Regions from separate parts of the Homo sapiens genome. Here region 1 is linked to region 2. The links come from fine-mapping of genetic effects on gene expression. A gene starts in region 2. The other region holds a variant in brackets. All regions are shown on one strand. Distances are from middle to middle.

Region 1 (2,808 bases), 630 kb before region 2:
AGTGCAAGAAAGATCTTACAGCTCATAGCTCTGGCTCTGCCATGCTAAATAACTGACCTGAAGCCATTTCCTTTCCTTGTGTGTCTTTAATGCTGAAGTCATCCCGGGTCTCCACCTCTGGCCTCCCTGGGCCTCTCCCCCATTCCTGCCTGTCTGCAGGCTAACTCAGTGTACTCAGAGCGAGTTTGCCTGGGACGAGACAGCTCTGCTTCTTCCTCTGGGCTCCTCCAACTCCCACTTCCCTCCAGCCAGACCCTCCCTCATTTGTTTATCCTAATTGAGAAGCCCCCACCTGACATCTATATCCCCCTGAGGCCCTACCACGTGGCTTTAATCCTAGTTACCCCTCCAGGTCCAACTCAGACCTCTCCTTCCTGGTAAGCCTCTCCCTTCCTGACCAGCCAGGCCTCTGGTGACCCTGTCCTTCACCCTTCATGGCCCACGACGTCTGGCCCTTCTGTACAGTATAGAGATAAAGGGCATGAGCTCTGGAGCCAGACCTCCTAGGTTCAAATCCTGCCTCTCCTGTATACTAGCTACTTGTCGTCTAGAGCAGGTTTCTTTGTTTCTTGTGACACTCCATGAGTTCCTTCTTCTCAGCCAGGTTCCAGGCAGTGGCTCACGCCTGTAATCCCAGCACTTTGAGAGGCCAAGATGGGAGGATTGCTTGAGCTTGGGAATTTGAGACCAGCCTGGGCAACACTGTGAGACCCAGTCTCTCCAAAAAAAAAAAAAAGCTGGGTACGGTGGTGTGTACCTATAGTCCCAGCTACTCGGGAGGCTGAGGCTGAGGTGGGAGAATTGCTTGAGCCTGGAAGGTGGAGGCTGCAGTGAGCTATGATTGCACCACTGCATTCCAGCATGGGCGACAGAATGAGACCGTGTCTCAAAATAAAAGTTCCTTCTTCTGCCTGTCTTCTCAGTTACACTAGAAGATCTTTAAGGAAGAAGACCCTGCCTCCGACTTCCTTCCTTCCCCGCCACAGCACCCGACAAGGACACAGAAGCTTCGCAAGAAACATGACATTGATCACTGCTGTCTAATAGGCGACAGGCCCACTGAATAGTCACGTGTGAGATCTAGATTCTTTCCTATATCCCTGGGCTTTGGTAAAGAGAGTTTAGCAGTACTCACCAATAGGGCGACAGACGCACAGAGAACACGAACACACATGTGCAGATATATGCGTGCGTGGTTAAAGGATTTGTCCAAGGTGCCTGGGTGTTCACTGAATTCCCAGCAGAGCACAGGCATGGCGGAGGGTCTATTCCCTGCGCTCAGCCCCTTAGATTACCCAGCCCCTCATTTTTATCCTATGGAGCATCCCCTTTCTGCATCTGACCCATTGTGGCAAAGTTCATTTCACTCTTTCTGTACTTAAATTTCCCCTCTCTTACATGCCTAAGAACCTGGTCCAATTCAGTTCACCTGGAAAATGAACAGTGAGTTTCTTCTTGGCTGGAATCTTATTTTTGAAATCTCCCCGCCCACCCCACTTGGCCTGCACAGATGGATCTGTGCTCCATGGAGTGGGGCTTCTGGCCGCGAAACCCCTTGCAGGGCCCTGAGAAACACCGGATAAAATATTTTTCTGTTAAAGGCTACCATTTTCACCTGACTGTGGAGATGCAGAAACTCTCAGCTGCTCTCCACTAACTATTCCTGTAGTAACCGTGGTGCTGAGATAAGCTCTTGCCCTACACAGGAGTGGCT[G/A]TTTCAGGCAGATTACCCTGGAGGGCAAGCACGGCTTCATTCCTACCGGGTTATCATGGGCTGCAGGAACAGGGGCTACTGCACAGGTCCAAGCCCTCTCACTGGGCGGGGTAACTCCAAATCTCCCTCCTGTCCAGAGCTCATGGGGAGGGACTGCAGCTTGTTTTGAGCATCAGAAGCCATGTGTGAGCTGGAATTGGTGCCAAGTCCTCCTTCTAAGCCCAGGGCTGGAGCGTCAACAGCGCCTAAAACCCACTTTTGCTCCTCTGTAGAGTCTGATCTTTTTTCTGTCTCCCTGGGGCTACCTTCTTATTGTAAATGTCTCTGACCTTATGGAAAGTGATTTCTTAGTTGTCAGGCCTGGTTTTAGGGAATTACGCTGCTGTTTTTGGGGATGCATATAACTTTAGGTCCAGCGGCAGACAAAGAGAGGAAAACAGTGGGTATGAGCTGCCCAGACCCCAGCCACCTGGGGCTCCCTGCATTCCAACCTGGGGCCCCACTGTCTTGCATCTGACTTAAGAGTACAGGGACTTTTTACAACCCTGGTGCTCTCTGGGGTACGATTTTGGGTGGAGGGAAAAATAATTTCATTTCTTTCACATCCACCCACAATACTAACATCCTAAAATTACAGCTCCTGGAATAAAACAACGTAGCACAACTGCTTTGGTGACAAATTCATTTTCGCATTGACCGTCCTGCCTGAAATACTTTTAGAAGCTCTAATGAGGGATTCTTCAGACTCTTCTATAGCAAAAGTTTCCTATGGGGACTTACTGGTGTGTGTTACAAAGTGCTATAAAGCTTCCTTCCAGTGCCCCGGCAGGTAAGACAAACACATACACTGACACACACACACACACACACACACACACACGAGCCAGGGACACATGTGGCCAGATGAGACAGTCAGGGGATTGCTACTTACACACACGTGCGAACCCACTGCATTTATCAACACATGTAATTGAAAAGAAAGTTTCACTGTCTGATTTGAGCTCCATTCCCCAGGAGCCCCCACCCTCGCTCCCTGCTCCAAACTGACCATGAACAACGACAGCCCCAAAATAATATCCATAACACGCCCGGCC
Region 2 (2,808 bases):
GATGCAAAACCATGGCAAAAGCCACTGCTGAACCTAGTGTCAAGCCAAAAGCCAATTGGGTTGGAACAAGACAGTGCCCATGTCCTTGTGTGCTTTAATATGGTAAGAGCTAGGGCTTTCTTAATATGGTGAAAATTCCAGAGGGGCATAAGGTGAGTCAGCTGCTCACACACAGATAAATGCCTGGACAAGTCCTGCCAAGGTTGGCCATCAATGGTAGATAGGAAACAAGCTGCTCCCAACTCAGTAGCCCAAGCATCACTGAAGCCACAGTGAACCTCCTCCACCACCTCTACAGGAAAGTATGAGCAGATATATGGGCGCCTAGAAAGAAGACCCCATTCTGTCACCCCATGGGCAACAGATTCCACAGTTGCCCTGAGAAGATATCCAAAAACAAACACAATCAGCTCAATTTAGATGCAAAAGACAAGGGGGAAAGGATGCTGGGAGCTGGAGGAGGCATCCTAGCAATCTATTTCGAGGGGCTCTTAGCACCTGTTTGCAAGCACAGCTCTCAAAATAGCATTCAGCAACAAGTTTCTGAAATGGCAAATCTACAGCTTCTTTTCCCTGCAAGTGCTTTGTCATGCTGATACTCTGACCCAAGAAAGCATTTCCAAAGAGCCTGCGGGATAAAGCGGAGCAATGTTGAACATGTCTGCAGCCACTGCAGCGGCAGCAGCAGCCCACGGTGCAGGGGAGGCTGGAGTGGACGCTGCCCGGGCCCCACCTCCTGTCTGAACACTCACCATCAGCAGGCCGAGAGCTGAGTCGGGCACCAGCTGCACTGCCATGGTCTCCGATTCCCATGCACGAATCCTGCTGCCGAGTCAGTCCTCCTGGGCCCCGGGTGGCTACAGAGCATCCAAAAGCACCTGCAGAAAAAGCAGCCAAAATCCAGACTTAGGGAGCAAAAGGCTCAAGGGGAAGATAGGCCACCTTTCACACAGGGTGGGGAGGAGGTCAGGGAAGACAGGGTGGGAACTGTGCTTAGGGAGGAAAAAAAAAAAAAGAAGAAGGAAAATAGGAAGCTGCAGGTTATTTAAAAGTGAGCCCTCCCTAGCTTCGCAAAGCGGCACAGACAGGGAGACCGCATCAAACACAAACGTGAAAGCTTAGAACACGGAATGTTTAACTGCTACCTTCGCCCTGGCAGCAATTCTTCCTTTAACTGACAATTAAAATAAAACATTCCCTATTGCAGATAAATCAAGCAGCCCGAGCCACCCCCTCTCTCTGCATCTCTCAGCAATTCTGCTGCATAAACATGCTGAATGTCACAACATACCGCTCGCAATCTGGTCAGTGTCTTCTTTGCTGCAGATAGGTGTGTCCCTTTTTGCAAAATCAGATATCTGGGAGTGAGACAGCCGAGTCTGACCATGAGGCACCAGGCAGTCACTGGAGATCAGCAAATGCCCTTACCATCCCCGAGGAGGAAGTCACTTAGGAACTGACCCTTCCACCTTCCCCAGATCTACTTTTCCTCTCCAAGTAGACTGGCCAGCTCAGCTCCCGGTAGGGCTAACATACTTAAGAGGAACATGGAATTGCACTGCCTGTTCTGTGAGCGTTCTGATCTCCCTGGCTGTACCACATGTACGCCGCATACAGACACACTCTACCTCTCTCTCCCTCCCTTCCTCCCGCCCTTCCTCCCTCCCATCCCTTCCCTCCCATCTCTCCACAGGGCTGCCTGTTAGGAATTTTGAAGGAGCCTCCCTAGTTCAGGGAGGCATAGGAGGTGAATTTGTCACAAGGGACACTGCTTAACAGGAAAAGGCAAGTTAGCCTTGAAAATCATATCATGCAGCATTTTCCCCGGAAGATGTCAATGAAGGGAGAAAGAAAAAACCTGCCGAATCTTGTTATATAATGGGTAGCTCAAAGGGCTTTCCAGAGTCAAAGACTTAAGAAAATTAGATATCTTTTCATGAGCACTGTCAAGCTTGTATCTTCTTCTGGAGTCCATGTATTCAACTAAAAATGGTTATTCCTGATACTTCTAGTATGTCCTTTTCTGATTTCTTCCTTTACTCACCTCCTGTAATGGCTCCAAAAAATCCTGAAAATTAACTAGACAGTGTGAAATGTAGAAACATAGAGAACAGTTTTCGAAATAAGAAACTAGGGGGAAGAAATTAATGACCTTTCATGTTCCTGTGCACGAGCATAGCTACTGTTCCTTTATTACTTATACTTTTAAAACTATTGATTTGGGCCAGGTATGGGAGCTCACACCTGCATTCCCAGCACTTCTGGGGGTTGAGGCAGGAAGATAGCTTGAGACCCAAAATTCAGGGTGAGCCTAGGCAACATAGCAAGACTTCATCTCTACAAAAAAAAAAAAAAAAAAGAAAAATAGAAATAAAAGAATTAGCCAAGCATGGTAGTGTGTGCCTAGAGTCTCAGCTACTTGGGAGGCTGAGGTGGGAGGATCAGTTCAGTCCAGGAGTTTAAGGCTGAAGGGAGCTATGACTGCACTCCTGCAATCCAGCCTGGGGGACAGAGCAAGACTCTGTCTCTAAAAAAATTTAAAAATAAAAAGTATTTGCTCATCACAGTGCTTAGCACAGAGTAAGTACTAAAATATATTCAATAAATGAGTGAAGGCTGGGTGCAATGGCTCACGCCTGTAGCCCCAGTACTTTGGGAGGCTGACGTGGGCAGATCACCTATGGTCAAGAGTTCAAGACCAGCCTGGTCAAGAGTTCAAGACCAGCCTGGTCAACATGGCAAAACCCTGTTCTATGAAAAACACAAAAATTAGCCGGGTGCGGTGGGCACCCGTGTTCCTAGATACTT

What was found. PIP is the estimated chance that this variant, and not a neighbour inherited with it, causes the effect.
Region 1: its variant is fine-mapped to the expression of FRMD4A in whole blood (TOPMed, PIP above 0.99).

The regions. Positions count from the first base shown.
Region 1 is chr10:13,704,186-13,706,993 of GRCh38, forward strand. All of the region lies in intron 13 of FRMD4A (FERM domain containing 4A), which reads right to left. Among named protein-coding and RNA genes, the nearest start is that of PRPF18, 120 kb to the left of the region's middle. The variant G/A (reference allele first, on the strand shown) is at 1,715.
Region 2 is chr10:14,329,306-14,332,113 of GRCh38, forward strand. It overlaps FRMD4A (FERM domain containing 4A), which reads right to left and starts at 1,619. Exons shown (of 25, transcript NM_018027.5): 1 at 1,292-1,619; 2 at 753-878. The coding sequence starts at 797.